Linked DNA regions of Homo sapiens: region 2 is linked to region 1. Evidence: fine-mapped expression QTL. A gene starts in region 1. The other region holds a variant in brackets. All regions are shown on one strand. Distances are between the middles of the regions. Region 1 holds the start of DNAJC12 (DnaJ heat shock protein family (Hsp40) member C12). Region 2 overlaps DNAJC12 (DnaJ heat shock protein family (Hsp40) member C12).

The links. PIP is the estimated chance that this variant, and not a neighbour inherited with it, causes the effect.
Region 2: its variant is fine-mapped to the expression of DNAJC12 in adrenal gland (GTEx, PIP 0.99).

The regions. Positions count from the first base shown.
Region 1 is chr10:67,832,677-67,845,347 of GRCh38, reverse strand. It overlaps DNAJC12 (DnaJ heat shock protein family (Hsp40) member C12), which reads left to right and starts at 7,160. Exons shown (of 5, transcript NM_021800.3): 1 at 7,160-7,414. The coding sequence starts at 7,337. It also overlaps the pseudogene DNAJC19P1.
Region 2 is chr10:67,811,196-67,819,195 of GRCh38, reverse strand. DNAJC12 (DnaJ heat shock protein family (Hsp40) member C12) reads left to right here. Exons shown (of 5, transcript NM_021800.3): 3 at 7,533-7,672. Among named protein-coding and RNA genes, the nearest start is that of DNAJC12, 23 kb to the left of the region's middle. RefSeq lists an enhancer at 1-311. The variant A/G (reference allele first, on the strand shown) is at 3,371.

The DNA.
Region 1 (12,671 bases):
GGCTTCCCAAAGTGCTAGGATTACAGGCATGAGCCACCGCGCCTGGCTGACCAGACTAATCTTAAAAGCTCTAAGTTTAACATGTTATTCACATGCTCAAGAACCTACAACAGTTCCTATTGCATCCATACTCACTCAGTGTCTTCCACCTGATCATCAAGGCTTTCTACATTCTGGCCCAGGTCTTCTGTTCAATCCCAGTATTAAAGGCATTCTCTCCAACATACCTTGCCATAAGGTCATTTTCCTTACCTTTAACTGAACACGCAATGGACATTTCCATCTCTGTATGATAGCTTATGTGTTTTGCTCCTTTCTCCTGCTTTTCATTTATTTTGTGAGTGCTTCTATGAATTCCTGGGTTAAAAAGTTCCTAAAAATCACATTGTCTTAGGCCATACTTGCATTGCTATGAGGGAATACCTGAACCTGGGTAATTTATAAAGAATATATATATATTTTTACTTTTCATTGAGACAGGGTCTCACTCTCTCACCCAGGCTGGGGTGCAGTGGCATGATTGTGGCTCACTGCAGCCTTGAGCTCCTGGGCTCAAGTGATCCTCCCACCTCGGCCTCTGGAATAGCTGGGACTACAGGCATACGCCACCATGCCCAGCTAATTTTTGTATTTTTTGTAGAGATGGGGTTTTGCCGTGTTGCCCAGGCTGGTCTCGAACTCGTGAGCTCAAGTGATCCACCTGCCTCAGCCTCCCAAAGTGCTATAACTACAGGCATGAGCTGTGACACTCGGCCAAGAAAAGAGTTTTAATTGGCTCGTGGTCCTGAAGGCTGTACAAGCATGCAGCCAGCATCTGCTTGGCTACTGGGGAGGCCTCAGAGAGCTTTTACTCATGGCAGAAGGCAAAGCAGGAGCAGGAATGTCACATGGCAAGAACAGGAACAAGAGAGTGAGGGGGAAGATGCCATACCACACACTTTTAAACAGCCAGATCTTATGAGAATTCACTCACTATTCTGAGGACAGCACCAGGAGGATGGTACTAAACCATTCATGAGAAATCTGGCTCCATGATCCCATCACCTCCTACCAGGCCCTAGCTCCAGCATTGGGGATTATGATTCAACATGAGATTTAGAGGGGACAACATCTAAACTGCATCATTCTACCTTGACCCCTCAAATCTCATATTCTTCTCACATTGCTGAATACAATTATCCCCTGCCCATAGTTCCCCAAAGTCTTAATTCATTCTAGCATTAACTCAAAAGTCCCAAGTCCAAAGTCTTATCTGAGACTCAAGCCATGTTCCTTCCACCTATGAACTTGTAAAATAAAAGACAAGTTATTTACTTCCAAGATACATGGAGATACAGGCATTGGGCAAACATTCCCTTTCCAAAAGGAAGAAATCAGCTAAAAGAAAGGAGCAACATGCCGGGTGCTGTGGCTCATGCTTGTAATCCCAGCACCTTGGGAGGCTGAGGAGGGTGGATCACCTGACGTCAGGAGTTGGAAACCAGCCTGGCCAACATGGTGAAACCCCGTCTCTACTAAAAATACAAAAATTAGCCGGGTGTGATGGCACATGCCTGTAATCCCAGCTACTCAGGGAGGATGAGGCAGGGGAATAGCTTGAACCTGGGAGGTGCAGGTTGCAGCGAGCCGAGATTGTGCCACTGTACTTCAGTCTGGGCAACAGAGCAAGACTCCACCTCAAAAAAAAAAAAGGAAAAAAAAGAAAGGAGCAACAAGTCCCAAGCAAGCCTGAAACCCAGCAGGACATTCATTAAATCTTAAAGATCCAAAATAATTCTTGACTCCATGTCTCACGTCCTTGGCACACTGCTGTGAGGGGTGGGCTCCCAATCCCTTGGGCAGCCCTGCCCTTGTGGCTTTGCAGGCTGCTCTCCTGGGTTGGAGTTGAGTGCCTGTGACTCTGTGACTTTTCCAGGTGCAGGGTGTGAGCTGCCAGTGGATCTACCACTCTGGGCCGGGAAGGTGGGGGCCCTATTCCCACAGCTTCACTAGGCAGTGCCCCAGTGGGGACTCTGTGTGGGAGTTTGTATTAGGCCATTCCCACATTTTTATAAAGAAATACCTGGCCAGGTGCAGTGGCTCATGTCTGTAATCCCAGCACTTTGGGAGGCTGAGGCAGGCGGATCACAAGGTCAGGAGTTTGAAACCAGACTGGTCAGTATGGTGAAACCTTGTCCCTACTAAAAATACAAAAATTAGCTGGGCATGGTTGCTTGTGCCTGTAGTCCCAGCTACTTGAGAGGCTGAGGCAGAAGAATCGCTTGAACCCGGGGGGTGGAGGTTGCAGTGAGCCAAGACTGCGCCGTCGCACTCCAGTCTGGGTGACAGAGCAAGACTCCATCACAAAAAAAAAAAAAAAGAAAAAAGAAATACCTAAGTCCGGGTGCAGTGGCTCATGCCTGTAGTCCAGCACTTTGGGAGGCCAAGGTGGGTGGATCACGAGGTCAGGAGTTCAAGACCAGCCTGGCCAAGATGGTGAAATCCCATCTCTACTAAAAAATACAAAAAATTAGCCAGGTGTGGTGGCAGGCGCCTGTAATCCCAGCTACTCAGGAGGCTGAGGCAGAGAATTGCTCGAACCCAGGAGGCAGAGGTTGCAGTGAGCTGACATTGTGCCATTGCACTCCAGCATGGGCGACAGAGTGAGACTCTGTCTCAAAAAAAAGAAAAGAAAAGAAAAGACATACCTGGGACTGGGTAATTTATAAAGAAAAGAGATTTAATTGGCTTATGGTTCTGCAGGCTGCACAGGGAGCATAACACAGGCATCTGCTTTTGGGGATACCTCAGGAAGCTTGCAATCACAGCAGAAGGTGAAGGGGGAGCAGGCATCTCCTATGGTGGGAGCAGGAGCAAGAGAGACAGAGAGTGAAGTGATACACACTTTTGAACAGCCAGATCTCAGAGAAGTCACTCATTTTTGTGAGGACAGCATCAAGAGGATGGTGCTCAACCATTCATGAGAAATCCAGTCCCATGATCTGATCACTTCCCACCAGGCCTTACCTCCAATACTGAGGATTACAATTCAACATGAGATTCAGGCAGGGAGACTTTCCAAACTATGTTAAAGTTCCAACCTCCCATTTCCCCTCTGCACTGCCCTAGTAGAGGCTCTTGGTGAGGGCTCTGTCCCTGTGGTAGGCTTCTTCTTGGGTACCCAGGCTTTCTTATATATTCTCTGAAATCTAGGAGGAAGCTGCCAAACCTCCTTCACTCTTGCATTCTGAACACCTGCAGGCTTAACACCACATGGAAGCCACCCAAGGCTTACAGCCTGCACCCTTCTGAGCTGTGGCCTGAGCTGTACCTGGGCCCCTTTGAGCTGAGGCTGGGGCTGAAGTGGCTGGATGCAGGAAGCAGCCTCCCATAGTGGTACAGGGCAGCAGCACCCTGAGCCTGGCCCCCTAAATCATTCTTTTCTCCTGGGCCTCTAGGCCTGTGATGAGAGGGGCTGCCTCTTAGATCTCTGAAATGCCTTTGAGGTTTTTTTCTCATTGTCTTGTCTATCAGCCTCTGACCTGGCTCCCTTTCATTTATGCAAATCTCTTTAGCAAGTGGTTGCTCTGCAGTCTGCTTAGATTCTTGCCCTGAAAATGGGTTTTTGTTTTCTACCACATGGCTAGGTTGCAAATTTTCCAAACTTTTACATTCTGCTTTCCCTTTAAATATAAGTTCCAACTTTAAGTCATTTCTTTGCTTCTGCATCTGAGGATAGGCTGTTAGAAGCAGCCAGGTCACTTCTTGAACACTTTGCTGCCTAGAAATTTCTTCTGCCAGATACCCTAAGTCATCACTCTTAAGTTCAAACTTCCACAGATTCCTAGGGCATGAATACCATATAGCTTTGTTCCTTGGTAAGGCATAACAAGAGTGACCTTTATTCCAGTTCTCAATAAGTTCCTCATTTCCATCTGAGACCTCATTAGCCTGGACTTCACTGTCCATATCACCGTCAGCATTTTGGTCACAACCATTTAACCAGTCTTGCAGGAGTTCCAAACTTTCCCTCATCTTCCTGTCTTCTTGTGAGCCCTCCAAAGTCTTCCAGCCTCTGCCCATTACCCAGTTTCAAAGCTGCTCCCACTTTGTCAGGTATCTTTATAGCAAGGCCCCACTCTTTGGTACCAATTTTTTGTGTCAGGCCATTCTTGCATTGCTATGAAGGAATACCTAAGACTTGGTAATTTATACTGAAAAGACGTTTAATTGGCTCACAGTTCTGCAGAATGTGGAAGCATGGAGCCAGCATCCGTTCAGCTTCTGGGTAGGCTTCAGGGAGCTTTTACTTATGGCAGAAGGTGAAGTGGGAGTAGACATGTTACATGGTGAGAACAGGAGTAAGAGAGCCAGGGGGAAGATACCACACACTTTAAAAACTTTTAAGCCGGGTACAGTGGCTCACCCCTCTAATCCCAGCACTTTGGGAGGCCACGGCGGGTGGATCACCTGAAGTCTGGAATTTGAAACCAGCCTGACCAACATGGAGAAACCCCATCTCTACTAAAAATTCAAAATTAGTCGGGCATGGTGGCACATGCCTGTAATCCCAGCTACTCAGGAGGCTGAGGCAGGAGAATCACTTGAACCCAGGTGGAGGTTGCGGTGAGCCAAGATCACACCATTGCACTCCAGCCTGGGCAACAAGAGTGAAACTCTGTCTCAAAAAAAAAATTATATTATTAATATAAAAATAAGGACAGAGTCTCACTATGTTGCGCAGGCTGGTTTTGAACTCCTGGGCTCAAACAATCCTCCTGCCTTGGTCTCTCAAAGTGCTGGGATTACAGGCATAAGCCACTGCAACTGGCCAATACCACACTTTTTTGTTTGTTTGTGTTAGACAAGGTCGTGCTCTGTCACCCAGGCTGGAGTGCAGTGGTGTGATCTCAGCTCATTGCAGCCTCCACCTCCTGGGTTCAAGCAATTCTCGTGCCTCAGCCTCCCAAGTAGCTGAAATTACAGGCATGTGCCACCACACCCAGCTAACTTTTTTGTATTTTCAGTAGAGATGAAGTTTTGCCATGTTGGCCAGGCTGGTTTCGAACTCCTGGCCTCAAGTGATCTGCCTGCCTCGGCCTCCCAAAGTTCTGGGATTACAGGTGTGAGCCACCATGCCCAGCCCTAACATTCCATTTGTTTAGTCATCCGTTGATGGACACTTGCATTGCCTCCACTTTTTGGCTATTATGACTAATGCCTTGATGAACATGAGTATATAAATATCTTTTCAAGTTCCTGCTTTCAATTCTTTTGTGTATTTACCCAGAAGTGGAATTGTGGGGTCACATGGTAGTTCTATGTTTAATTTTTTGAGGAACCACCATACTGCTTTCCACCATGGCAACTTCACATCATTAAAAGGCCATTTATCAGTGATTTAGATCAAGATATTGTGATCTAATTTTTTTTTTTTTTTTTGAGATGGACCCTGGCTCTGTCACCCAGGCTGGAGTCCAGTGGCACGATCTCGGCTCGCTGCAACCTCCGCCTCCCAGATTCAAGCAATTCTCCTGCCTCAGCATCCTGAGTAGCTGGGACTACAGGTGCGTGCCACCATGCTTGGCTAATTTTTGTATTTTTAGTAGAGACAGGATTTCATCACATTGGTCAGGCTGGTCTCGAACCCCCGACCTCGTGATCCGCCCGCCTCGGTCTCCCAGTGCTGGGATTATGGCATGAGCCACCGTGCCTGGCCTTAAAATTCTATATAGAACTTTTAGCAAGACAGCATGTACAATGAAGGATTAGTAAAAAATGGTGTTTCAGTGCTTTTTCTTGCTTCTCTTCAGAAATAAACCTTTAAAAAGATGTATATAGGTGGGCTAAAAGAAAAACTATTTTTTCCCCTCAGGTGGGGGAATTTAAAGTGTTAAGGGCCAGGCATGTTGGCTCACATCTGTAATCGCAGCACTTTGGGAGGCCAAAGTGGGAGGATCACTTGAGTCCAGGGGTTTAAGACCAATCTGGGCAATATGGCGAGACCCTGTCTCTCTGAAAAATGAAACAAAAAAAGTGTTAAGGCAGTCAAAGTGTTGTGTCCCTGACCACTCACCTTGTTCTCTAAATCCCAGACCTGAACTGTGTTTCTTAGGGCCAAAATGAACTGAAACATAAATTGCCTGGACCTACCTCAGACTAGAGACACTCCTGAGTCTGGAGAACCAACCCAGGAGAAATAGCACAGCCATCTGACCCGAGTTATCATACAGTTCTTCTCATTGTCCTATTTTATTTTCTCTAAAGCACAAATCACTATTTTATTTTTTTATTTTTTGAGATGGAGTCTTGCTCTGTAGCGCAGTCTGGAGTGCAGTGGCACCATCTCGGCTCACTACAGCCTCTGCCTCCTGGGTCCAAGTGATTCTTCTGCCTCAGCCTCCCAAGTAGCTGGACTACAGGTGTGGGCCACCATGCCTGGCTTACAAATCACTATTTTAAATGATCGTGTTTTTTTTTTTTTTTTTTTTTTTTGCATGTTTTTCAGCTGTCTTCCTCCATCAGAGCGTAAGCTCCATAAAAATCAAGACTGTGTTATTGGCTGGGCGCTGTGGATCATGCCTGTAATCCCAGCACGTTGGGAGGCCGAAGCAGGCAGATCGCTTTGAGCTCACGAGTTCGAGACCAGGCTGGGCAACATGGCAAAACCCCCTCCTCTTAAAACATAACAAAACAAAAACCAAAAATTAGCTGGACATGGTGCTATGTGCCTGTGGTCCCAGCTACTAGGGAGGCTGAGGTGGGAGGATCGCTTGAGCTGGGGAGACAGAGGTTGCAGTGAGCTGAGACTGCACCACTGCACTCCAGCCTGGGCAACAGAGTGAGACCTTGTCTGAAAATAAACAAATAAAAAATAAAATTAAGTATTTTAAACACTAAGAAAAGCTCCCATTATCCTTATTAACACATCCTAAGATTTTACCACATTGCTTCACATTTTTTTTCTTTTTTTTTTTTAAAGGATAGAGACAAAAATATATAGGAGATGGAGAAGTGGCTAATGTGGCAAGTTTCTGAAAATAGACAGTCTTTATTAACTCATAAGACAAATGGTTCACATGCATCTCTTATATAAACTCAAACTACAGATCCCAGGCAGCACTGCAATAATAGACACGTGGACTGTTCTTTTCTTCTCTGTAAACAGCCAATGAGAGGCAGAGTTTACAAAGGTCTAGGATGACATCTGGTGTATTGACTGTGGCCAGTCTTAAAGCTAGTTTTTGCTATGTGGAACATGCTGCTCTAATTCAGATTTAAAGAGTTTCTTCCTGTTAATTCGAAGCTCACTGTGCCTCTTGTTTCCGAGGGAAGAAGGACTGATTAAGTCATCTAAATGGATGCAATACTGAATTACAGGTCAGAAGATACTGAAGATTACTACACATTACTGGGATGTGATGAACTATCTTCGGTAAGACAGTGGATAATATTTTTATCACAACAGTATTCTTTTTCACAATAGTATTTCAAGTTTTTATTTAAGGTTTTAACTTTGAATTTTTAGTCACATTGCCTACAAACCTAACCTTGTGTTGTTTTAAAGCACTTTTGGCTCAGAGAAAGTTAAGAATTTAAATGTATGTTGGGATTTTACTTGAATAGTGTCCTATGGGAATTTTACGGAAGCTTCTGATTAAATATGTGTATTCTGGCACATGGCCATATGCTGTTTCACAATATAGTATATTAAAAATAAATATTTGAAATTTTATTGTAATTTCTGATGGCAGTGTTTCACAGTATATATAAGCTATACCTTTATTATGGTGACTCATAATTGAGGTGAAATGAAATTTCTTATAAAATTAGGGATTTTAATATATTTTATTAAAATGTGTACTCCTATGTGAGCAGTCAAAATAGAAACAAAGAAGCATCCCTTTATGTTAATATTTCAAATTGTGTGACAGAAATTACTTCTTGAAAGGGTGGCTTCTGAAACAAAACATGTGAAAACTCTGTAGCTGTTCACTGGATCTGTAAGAAAACAAAATTTTTAAAGTTCTCAATAAACAATTATAAAGGTTGTAGAGGTTTTTTAAATTATGGAAAAATCATTTATAATTCTCTCTCCCAAGGATAACAGTATTAATATTTTGGCATATTAATCTCCACTATTCTTTCTATGTATATTCTTTAAAGACCTGTTTGGGAGGATATTATATGTACTTGTTGATTCCTGCTTTTTACCCATTCGTATTATAACAAGGAATTTTCCATGCTATTAAACTTTCCTTGTACACTTTTTAGTGGTTGCAAAATATTTTATTTTGCTGTGTTACCACAGTTGAATTATTCTCTTATTGTTAAATATTTTATTTCCAATTTTTCAATATTTCAAATAATGTTGAGATTAATATAAAATATATTCATTATTAAATTATATATTATTAAATCATGTTATTAGGATATATTTATGTTTTATAATTAATGTATTTTATTTTATTTATTTTTATTAAAATCTAAGTAGTAAAATTAACATTGTAAAGCAAAATGTTTTTATATTTATTGTTGTTTCATAAAGGCAGTAGTTCATTAATAAAATGTGCTTAGTTTTGTTTTAAGAATAGAATGCATTACTGGACACAAAGGATTAAAATCTCTATTTTTGCCATGCTGAGGAAGTTATCTTAGACACGTTGAAATTAAAAAAACTGCCCCGCCCCCAGAATAGCTTATAATGGTCTTTTAGTTGCATATTTCTTCTCAAGAATGTGTTATTCTTGTTTATGTTGGTGGTGATTTGCTTATAGCAATTGAGAAAGCTTATTACCATTTTTACCATGTGTTATTCACAGTTGAAATTATACTATTATCAAACAATTTTTGAAGGAATAATTTAAAATCAAAGGAATATAATTTAACTTGATAAGGCTGACAATTTGGATTTAAAAAAATACATGCTAGCTTATACAGTAAGGGTCATTATATCTCCATAATCTTGTGACCTATTTAGTCAGTCCTTTTTTTTTTTTTTCAATTTTACTTTAAGTTCTGGGATCCCTGTGCAGAATGTGCAGGTTTGTTACATAGATACACATGTGCCAGGGTGGTTTGCTGCACCTATCAACCCATCATCTAGGTTTTAAGCCCCGCATACATTAGGTATTTGTCCTAATGCTGTCCCTCCCCTTCTCCCCCACCCCCCGACAGGCCCCGGTGTGTGATGTTCCCCTGCCTGTGTCCATGTGCTCTCATTGTTCATCTCCCACTTATGAGTGAGAACATGTGGTGTTTGGTTTTCTGTTCCTGTGTTAGTTTGCTGAGAATGATGGTTTCCAGCTTCATCCATGTCCCTGCAAAGGACATGAACTCATTCTTTTTTATGGCTGCATAGTCAGTCTTTTGAAGTTATGCTGTTGTCTTTTCAATCTACATAGAAGGAGGATTCATTTTGGACAGCCTTACAGAAAATAATCTCGTTGTTAATGTGTAATATTCAAAATATGGTTACCAGGTGGAGTCATACTTCCTTGTCTCAACATTCCTTTTACTGGATGTATTTTACTGGTCTGTCAATGGCATATCATATCTAGATAACAATTATTTATTTTTAATGAAATGTTTGTCATAATATTGTCACTTCTTTATATATATGTGTGTGTGTGTGTGTGTGTGTGTGTGTGTCATTTTTTCTCTCTTTTTTTTGTTTTTTTGAGATGGAGTCTCACTCTGTTGCCGGGCTGGAGTGCAGTGGTGCAATCTCAGGTCACTGCAACCTCCGCCTCCCAGGTTCAAGTGATTCTCCTTCCTCAGCTTCCTGAGTAGCTGGGACTACAGGCACATGCCACCATGCCTAGCTAATTTTTGTATTTTTAGTAGAGACGGGGTTTCACCGTGTTGGCCAGGATGGTCTTCATCTCTTGACCTCGTGATCTGCCTACCTCGGCCTCCTAAAATACTGGGATTACAGACGTGAGCCACCGCACCTGGCTTTTCTCTTCTTTTTATAGGTATGCTTCTCATTTCAAAAATATTTTTATGACATTTTTGACTAATATGACATTTCCTTTACTTGATTTGTATTGGATAGATTGCCTTTACTTCAGGTATTCCTTCATTTGATGCTCTAAAATTAACCAGAACTCATCATGCCCGAAAGCATTTTAGCTGTTATAATTTCAAAACAATTTGATATTCTAATTTTACTTATCACAATTGAATTGAGACACCCACATAATACTTTTGCTTTGGTATATAGTTCTTACAATTTAAAGTTTGTGCTAGAAATTGATTAAAGTAAAATTATGTATTTTCTAATGGTTCTAGAGCAGTAATCCTGAAGCTTTTCCTTCTCAGAGAGTTTTTAAAATTATCTTTCAGAAATTGAAAATACAACCATGAAAACAAGCAATGAGACTAATTTTCTAGTTTACATAATGACATATATAAATTATGGGAGGATTTCCATGTTATATAGAAAACAATATATTCCCCATTTCAAAACAATTTAACAAAGATTGATTCCAAGACAGTTAGCCTTTCTCCCTATATTGGATTTTTTTTTTAAATTTTTGTTTCTTTGAGATGAAGTCTCACTGTGTTGCCCAGGCTGGAGTGCAGTGGCAGGATCTCAGCTCACTGCAGCCTCCTGGGTTCAAGTGATTCTCCTGCTTCAGCCTCCTGAGTAGCAGGGATTATACGTGCATGCCACTATGCCCAGCTAATTTTTGTATTTTTGTACAGATGAGCTTTCACCATGTTGTCCAGGCTGGCCTTGAACTCCTGACCTCAAGTGATCCGCCGCCTTGGCCTCCCAAAGTGTTGGGATTACAGGCATGAGCCACCGCGCCCGGCCTCTATTCCTCAGTTTTCTAACCTGTAAATGGAAGTAAATAGTACCCACCTCACAGAGTTGTGGGGATTAAATAATACGTGATATATAAAGTACTTTGAACAGTGCCTGGTGCAGAGCGCTAAGTTGTGGTGGTTGTGGTTGTGGCTGTTGTTTTGGCCCCCACAGTGTTACTGTGCACTTGGAACTTAGTACACTTATCCTATCCTTGAGTTTGCATTATTTTTAAGATGTTTTATTTTGCAATAATTTTTGACTTACAGAAAAGTTGTAAAAATAGTACAACAGAGTTCCTATATACCCTTAACCCAGCTTCCCTTTATGTTAACATCATACCTAATGAAAGTATAATGATCAAAATCAGAAATTAAAAAAAATTATAGCTCTGAGGCATTTTATTATAAAAGCTTGGTACTCATATACATAAACTAAAATGAACTTAAAATTCATCATACATTTACTTCATTTTTTAGCTTGACCTTCTAGTAAATTTCTAGCTTCACTGATTTTGGCTGCTATGATTTAAGAGTATAATTTATCAATGAGCATCTCTTATTTTCCCTTTTTTGGCAGTAGGGCTTACCCCTAGCATTAATGCTGCTTCTTGTTTTGTCATTTTGGGTTCAAACTCACCTCAGTAATAGCCACCACTGAAGGCAGATTTTGATAGACTTTGAAAAACTTGCTTTACTTGAGGCTCCATGTGCTCCATGGCTTGCAAAACATAATGGCCTGCAAATCCTGCAGCAGCAATGGTCAGTCCAACTGCTACCATTGTACTGGCCATGGCTATAGCTGGGCTCCCTTGCCTCTACCGAGAGCCTGGATCATCCCAGCCCAGAGATCATGGCCCAAAACTGCACACCTTTACCAGAGTGACGCAGCCACCGATCGCAAGCACAAACCACCAAAAAATCAGAAAATTAACATTGCTATAGTTAACCCTACCATGGTCCAGCAAACATTTTTTTGTAAAGGACTAGATAGACAGAGTCAGGACTAGAATGAGGCAAGTAGGGTGTGTAGGATGCAAAATTTAAGGAGGCACTAACATTTAGGGTTGCGCATGTACAGAAATTTGAGAGAGACAGAGAGAGAGAGAGAGAGAGAGGGAGAGGGAGAGAGAGAGGATATTTCCTTAGACCTAGGTGTCCTGCTTGCCTCACCTAATGCTGATCCTGGCATAGCAAATATTTTAGGCTTTGCAGGCCTTACAGTCTCTGTCCTAACTACTCAGCTCTGCCATTGGAGAAAACAGCCATAGACAATATAAGTGAATGATCTTGGCTGTCTTCCAATAAAACTTTAATTAAAAAACAGGCAGCAGCAGGCCAGAGTCAATCAATCCCTGATCTAAATTATAAGTCTTATCTAATTTCATCAGTTTTCCTAATAATGCCCTTTTTCTGTTCTAGGATCCAAGCCAGGATCCCTTATTACGCTTAACCCTTAATGACCTCCAATCTGATGCTTTCTTCTACCTTCTTTGTCTTTCATGACCTGGACAGTATGAAGACTACTGTCAGTATTTTGTAGAATGTCCCTCAATTTGACTTTGATATTTTCTCATGATTAGATTGAGGTTATGCATTTTTGGAAAGAACTCCTCAGAAGTGATGTTGTGCCTTTCTTAGTATCTCATGTGGGGGTGCATGAAATGGATGTGCTTTATTGACCTTGAGCACTTCGTTAAGGTGATGTCTGTCAGGTGTCTTCTGCTAGGTTTTTCCAAGGTAGGGTTATTATTTTTCCTTTTGTAATTAACAAATATCTTGGGGAAGGTACTTTGAGACTGTCCTGTTTCTTCTCAAACTTTTACTCACTAAGTTTAGCATCCTTCAGTGGATCTTGCCTGTAACAGTTACTACTATGG
Region 2 (8,000 bases), 24 kb after region 1:
GCGCCCGGCTAATTTTTTGTATTTTTACTAGAGACGGGGTTTCACCTTGTTAGCTAGGGTGGTCTCAATCTCCTGACCTCGTGATCCGCCCGCCTCGGTCTCCCAGAGTCCTGGGATTACAGGCGTGAGCCACCGCTCCCGACCCCTGGCCCAAACATTTCTTTAGGATTCATATTAACTACCTGTCTGAACTGGAGTTAATATTAAGATAGGTGTCCTAGCATAAAATTATAAAAATTTAGATCGGGCTCGGTGGCTAATGCCTGTAATCCCAGCACTTTGGGAGGCCAAGGTGGGTGGTTCACCTGAGGTCAGGAACTTGAGACCAGCCTGACCAACATGGTGAAACTCTGTCTTTACTAAAAATACAAAATTAGCCGGGCGTGGTGGCACATGCCTGTAATCCCAGCTACTTGGGAGGCTGAGACAGGAGAATCGCATGAACCCGGGAGCAGATGTTGCAGTGAGCCGAGATCGCGCCACTGCACTCCAGCCTGGGTAGCAAGAGTGAAATTGTGTCTCAAAAAAAAAAAAATTATAAAAATTTGATAAACACTTAAAAACCACCACCACCCCAGGTTATTCTTTAACTGGGTTCTTTTCAGTGAAGCATGACTGTGAGTTGTTTCTCTGTCCCTGACAAACAATTTTTATTCAGGATACATGATGAATCACTGTGTAATTATTGCCATTTCTAGTTGCCATAGTGATGGGGGTTTTCATGTATGGGCTGCCTCAAGGCGTCTTGTTCAGAGAAACAGTGGACTGTGTAAATATTGTTTAAAATGAAAAGGTACACAGACATCAATATCTTCTCTAGGCAGGCATGCATTTGATATATGATTCAACCTTTGGGTAGAGGTTGTTTTTTAATCTATTTAAGCATCCGTTTACTCAGTTTTCATTAATACAACTTTCTGAACGTTTATGTGGATCTTTACACACTTGGATGATTAAGGTTACTGATGAAAATATTTCAAATATATATATGAGACAGGATCTCGCTCTGTCTCCCAGGCTGGAGTGCAGTGGTGCGATCTTGGTTCACTGCTGGCCTCAACCTCCCAGGCTCAAGCAGTTCTCCCACCTCAGCCTCCCAAGTAGCTGGGACCACACATGTGCGCCACCACACCTGAGTAATTTTTTTGTATTTTTAGTACAGACGGGGTTTTGCCATGTTGCCCAGGCTGGTCTCAAACTCCTGGACTCAAGTAGTCTGCCTTCCTTGGCCTCCCAAAGTGCTGGGATTACAGGGATAAGCTGCTGTGCCTGGCCAGACTATTTCAAAATCTCTTTTTTTATTTTTTATTTTTTTGGGGGGATGGAGTCTTGCTCTATCGCCCGAACTGGAGTGCAGTGGCACAATCTCAGCTCACTGCAACTTCTGTCTCCTGGGTTTAAGTGACTCTCTTGCCTCAGCCTCTTGAGTAGCCGGAGCTATAAGTGTGTGCCACCACGCCCAGCTGATTTTTTTTATTTTTAGTGGAAACGGGGTTTCACCATGTTGGCCAGGATGGTCTCAAACTCCTGACCTCAAGTGATCCACCTGCCTCGGCCTCCCAAAGTGCTGGGATTACAGGAGTGAGCTACTGCACCCAGCCTCAAAATATCTTTAAAAATTCACTTGGATACTGAAGTTTAGCTTGACAGAAATTCAGAATGTAATGGAAAGATTTTGAAATGTATCTAATTAAGGTGAAAAGCTAGACAGTAGAGGAACTTTGGGTAGGATAAATTAAACTTATATCTATACCTTTTTCGTCCACTAAATATAGTCTCAACTGTTGCCATTGAAATTACTGATGTGGTAGCATGATGGAGTAGTGGATATAAACACAGGCTTGTTTGTCTGGATTGCTCCCATTCCACTTACAGTCTAGTTGATCTTGGGCAATCTCTCCAAGCCTCAGCATTCTCGTAGGTAAAACAGGTAGACTAGTAGTATATTACTTCATGCATCTGCTGTGAAGATTAAATGAGGAGTCCTGCATGTGGAAAGTGCTTAATGGATGCTGGCAATTTTAATTCAGTGGATTGTCTTTCCTTGTTTTATGTAGCAGCCCAAGGTAAACATTTAACGTGATGGGATAGTTTTCTCTTTTTATAAGTAATGATTAGATCATTCTTTTATTCCCTGAAAAAAAAAAAAGTAAATCTAAGGCCACCAGAAATCCCTTCCCCTCTCCAGATGTGGGTGCTGCAGACAGGACTGACTTTGCTATAAAAATAGTGTCACTGAGCCCCAGAGCTCCTGGCTGGTGCTCATGCCAGCGCTCTGTGTGGGTGACAGTAACTGTTTCAGATTAGCACTATATTAACTTCTCCATGGCCATGAAGAAAGTAGACTTAAGGCCGGTGTGATGGCTCACACCTATAATCCCAGCACTTTGGGAGGCCAAGGTGGGCAGATCACATGAGGTCAGGAGTTTGAGACAAGCCTAGCCAACATGGTGAAACCTCGTCTCTACTAAAAGTACAAAAAATTAGCTGAGTGTGGTGGCGGGTGCCTGTAATCCCAGCTACTGTGGAGGCTGAGGCAGGAAAATCACTTGAACCCAGGAGGCGGTGGTTGCAGTGAGCTGAGGTTGTGTCACAGTGCTCCAGCCTGGGCTATAGAGAGAGACTCTGCCTCAAAAAAAAAAAAAAAAAAAAGAAAGTAAACTTCAGACTAAGAACCTGTGGAATGGTATTTTTGTTACTGATGTGCAAACTTCAAGGACATTTGGATATTAGAAGAAGGGGAGCAATTTGTCCTTTGTTAACTAACATCTTTTAATGTCTCAATTTTTTTTTTACTTTATAGTCTTTACTGTTTTTCCCCATATAATAAAAATAACATAATTAATAAATAATGTTGGAAGAAAAAGTTTGCTTTTATCTTTCCCTGATAGAGAACCACTATTAACAGTTGGTATATTTTCTTCCAGATTTTTTCAAAGCATATTTTGACATCATATTATTATTTCTTAAGTAATTGTAAATGGCATACATTTAAAATGTGACTGTTGTAATACAAATTCTATTGCAAAATATGAATTTAAAATAACCTCTATATTTTGAAGGTAGACCCAGGAGTTAAATCAGAATGTCTCGCAAGACTTCCAGCATCATTTGCTCCTATAAGCTTACAAAATGAGATCTCTCTTCCCAGAACTGGCAAGTGTTTACCTTGTGTGGCTCATTTGATTAGTTGCTACATTAATGGAAAAATATAAACCCAAACTCACTTTTGTTAAATGTGGTGAAGTGGATGGAACAAGAGAAAGGTCACATTATAGGAAAGATAAGGTTTCTTTTTTCTTTCTGCTTATCAACTGTTGTTGAGGGACTTACATCAGAATAATTCTAAGCAGCTTCTTTCATTCTGGGA[A/G]TTCTAGAAAGCGAAGCCAACAATGATGTGAAAAGAGAAGGTGACTCACAGATAAATACATAAATCTTTACAAGCCCCACATGAGTAGCAACTGGCATGTGCATCCTTGGTGGTAATTTAATAAGCTTTTTATTCCTGTTGGAAAAAGTGACGTATCATTTATACAATGGGACATTTACATTGTCGTCAGCAACAGGAAGATTTGCTCTCGCTGGACCAAGCTGCTATGGCAAGATACTTTTATTTGTTCATTTGTTTTCCTGTAGCTTTCAATAGCCCCATCTTTTTTTTTCTTTTCTTTTTTTTTTTTTTTTTTTGAGACGAAGTATTGTTCTTGTTGCCCAGGCTGGAGCGCAATGGTGTGATCACGGCTCACCGAAACCTCCACCTCCTGGGTTCAAGCGATTCTCCTGCCTCAGCCTCCCAAGTAGCTGGGATTACAGGCATGCACCACCACGCCCAGCTAATTTTGAATTTTTAATAGAGATGGAGTTTCTCTATGTTGGTCAGGCTGGTCTTGAACTCCTGACCTCAGGTGATCCGCCCACCTTGGCCTCCCAAAGTGCTGGGATTACAGGTGTAAGCCACCGTGCCCAGCCTCATTTAGCATATTTTCAAGACTCATTCATGTTGTAGCACATATCAACATTTCATTCCTTTTTATGGCTGGATGATAATTCTTTTAGGTGGATATACCACATTTTGTTTATCAATTCACAGTTGATGGACATTTGTGTTATTTTCACTTTTGGCTATTATGAGTAATGCTGCTATCATATACAGGTTTTTGTGTGGACATATGTTTTCATTTCTCATGGATATATACCTAGGATTATAATAGTTGGGTCATATGGCAACTCTGCTTAATATTTTTGAAGAACAGCCAAACTACTTTTCAAAGTGACTATATACCACTTTACATTCCCACCTGTCATGTGTGACAGTTCCAATTTTTTCACATTCTAGACAATTATTATCCTTTAATTTTAGCCATCCTAGTAGGTATAAAGTGGTATCTCACTATGGTTTTGATTTGTATTTCCTGAAGGACTAATACTGTTCAGGATATTTTCAGGTGCTTGTTGGCTATTTGTATATCTTCTTTGGAGAAATGTTCATTCAAGCCCTTTGTCCATTTTGCATTTGGGTTATTTGTCTTATTATTGAGTTGTAAATGTTCTCTATAAATTCTAGATATAAGTACCTTATCAGATATATTATTTGCAGATATTTTTTCCCATTCCATGGTTTGTCATTTCACTTTCTTCATGGTATTCTTTGAGGCACAAAAGTTTTAATTTTGATGTAGTCCAATTTATCTATTTCTTCTTTTGTTGCTTGTGCTTTTGGTGTCATATCTAAGGAGCTCTTGCCTAAGCTGAGGTCACAAAGATTTATTCCTATGTTTTTTTTTTCCCAGTTTTTTATGGTTTTAACCCTTACATTTGGATCTGTGATCCATTTGAGTCAATATTTGTTTATAGCTTAAGGTAGAAATCTAAATTCATGCTTTTTATATATTGATATTTAGTTATCCTAGCACCATTTGTTGAAAAGACTATTTTTTTTCTTCATTAAATTGTCTTGGCACTCTTGTTGAAATCAATTGACTGTAAATGTAAGGGTTTGTTTCTGGATTCTCAATTCTATTCCATTTATAAGTATGTCTATCCTTATGTTAGTACCACACTGTTTTCACTACTGTAGCTTTGTAGTATAAGTTTTGAAATTCAGAAGTGTGAATTCTCCAACTTTGCTCTTATTTTTTTCAAGAGTTTTTTTTTTTTTTGGCAATTCTGGGTCCCTTGTATTTGCAAACAGATTTTAGGACTAGATTGTCAATTTCTGCAAAAAAGGCAACTGGGATTTTGATAGAGATTATGTTGAATCTGCAGATCAGTTTGGGGGGTATTATCATTTTAGCAATAGTAAATCTTTATGAACGTGGGATGTCTTTTCATTTATTTAGATCTTCTTTAGCTTCTTTTGACAATATTGTGTAGTTCCTTCTTTTGTTCAATTTTTTAAAAATATTATATTCTTCTTGAAGCTTTTTTTTTTTTCTTTTGAGACAGAGTCTTGCTCTGTCACCCAGGCAGGAGTGTAATGACATGGTCTCAGCTCACTGCAACCTCCGCCTCCCAGGTTCAAGTGATTCTCCTGCCTCAGCCTACTGAGTAGCTGGGATTACAGGCGCCTGCCACCACACCCAACTAATTTTTTTTTTTTTTTGTATTTTTAGTAGAGACGGGGTTTCACCATGTTGGCCAGACTGGTCTCGAACTCCTGACCTCGTGATCCGCCCACTTCGGACTCCCAAAGTGCTGGGATTACAGGCATGAGCCACTGGGTCCGGCTCTTGATGCTCTTATAAATGGAATTTTCTTAATTTCATTTTCAGATTGTTCATTGCTACTGTGTAGAGACACCACTGATATTTGTATATTGATTTTTTATTTTTTGGAGACGGAGTCTCGCTCTGTCATCTAGGCTGGAGTGCAGTGGTGTGATCTTGGCTCACTGCAACCTCTACCTCCCAGATTCATGAGATTCTTCTGCCTCAGCCTCCCAAATAGCTGGGATTACAGGCGCCCACCGCCATGCCTAGCTAATTGTCTTCTTGCTGTGTTTTCACATGGGGGAAACAGAGTGAGCGAGTTGTCTGGGTTTCTTTTATTAGGGCACTGATTCCATTCGTGAGGGTTCCACCCTCATGATCTAATCATATCTCAAAAGCCCCATCTCCTAATACTATCATTTTGGGAGTTAAGAATTCAACATATGAATTTTTGTTTGTTTGTTTTGAGATGGAGTCTTGCTCTGTCGGACAGGCTGGAGTGCAGTGGTGCAAACTCGGCTCACTGTAAGCTCTGCCTCACGGGTTCCAACGATTCTCCTGCCTCAGGCTCCTGAGTAGCTGGGATTACAGGCCTGGGCCACCGTGCCTGGCTACTTTTTTTTGTTTTTTTTTTTTGAGATGGAGTCTCGCTCTGTCGCCCAGGCTGGAGTCCAGTGGCACAATCTCGGCTCACTGCAACCTCTGCCTCCCAGGTTCAAGCAATTCTCTGCCTCAGCCCCCGAGTAGCTGGGAATACAGGCGCCTGCCACCACCCCCAGCTATTTTTTTTTTTTTTTTTGTATTTTTAGCAGAGATGGGGTTTCACCATCTTGGCCAGGCTGGGTCTTGAATTCCTGACCTCGTGATCCACCCACCTTGTCCTCCCGAAGTGCCGGGATTACAGGCCTGAGCCACTGCACCCGGCCTGTATATAAATCTTGTATTCTGCTCTGCAGAAAGTTTTTACTTCACTGAGGAGCAGAAGAGACTTTGGAGGTGTTTCTAACAGAGCCATAAAAGGTTTCTATTATATACCATCTGGTCAAGTAGATTAGTGACAAGCTACCATTTGTCCCAGCATCTACCATGTTATTTATTATACTTAAAGCCTCCCGTTTCTCTTACGACAAAAAGCAGGCCAGCATCCTTAACATGACATCTCAGGCCCTGGTTGATTGAGCTATTGTCTGTCTACTCTACAGCCCCATCCCTCATCGTTCTTTCCCTAGCCTTGTGTCCTCCAGCCACACTGGCAATTACTACTTCCTCTAAGTCACCGTGCTCCTTCCTGCTTTATAAGGACAAACAAGATCATGGATGTAAAGTGCTTGGGACAGTTTATCCACTCCCTGTATTGTGCCTCAGTCATGTCTTTATAGTCTTTATAGTCTTCAGTTTTATAGTCTTTATAGTCTTCAGTTTTACTGTCCCTCTTGCCTAATTACTGCCCTGTTTCACACCCAGCACTAAAAAAGGTAGTTTTCTTCCTATAAGGTGGAATAGTATTTTTTCAATGTTTACAAATGTTTCTTTCCCCTGCTAATAATGTCTATTATTCACATCTGTGTCATCAGCACCGGGAGTAGCCTCTGGCACATGACTGAGGCACAATACAGGGAGTGGATAAACTGTGCCGAGCACTTTACATCCATGATCTTGCTTGTCCTTATGATACCCTTTACAAAAGCTTAATGAGGTAAATTGGCCCAAGGTCACATAGCTATTAAGTGGCAGTCATGGTTTTAGTAAGAGCAGTTGGATAGTTTTGGAGTTTAAAATATCCTCTCCGAGAGAGAAGTGCTCATTTCTTGATTTGTTTTCCAGTGGAGACTTTTCAGAAACTGCAGAAGGCAAAGGAGATTCTGACCAATGAAGAGAGTCGAGCCCGCTATGACCACTGGCGAAGGAGCCAGATGTCGATGCCATTCCAGCAGTGGGAAGCTTTGAATGACTCAGTGAAGACGGTGGGTTTCTCGCTGGGTGCGACGTGAATTTGTGAAGCTCAGGATGCCCATGGATTAGACTCATGTAGTAGCTTAAAGAGTCATTAGGCGATAGGAGGGAGAAAACCAAGAAGTTAGCAGAGTCTGGATATAATTCAGTGTCCGTAAATCCCATGAAGAGAAGCTCATCAGAATAAAGGCAATGAATTTGTGCCAGAAGAGCCTGTGACTACATTTCTTTCAATCTCTTTGGCTGTTTGTTTCAGTATACACACTCCCTGTTATTGCTTACTATTTTATGAGCTCTAATAAATGTACTTCTCAAGTTGCTCATGAATTGCTGAGTTTT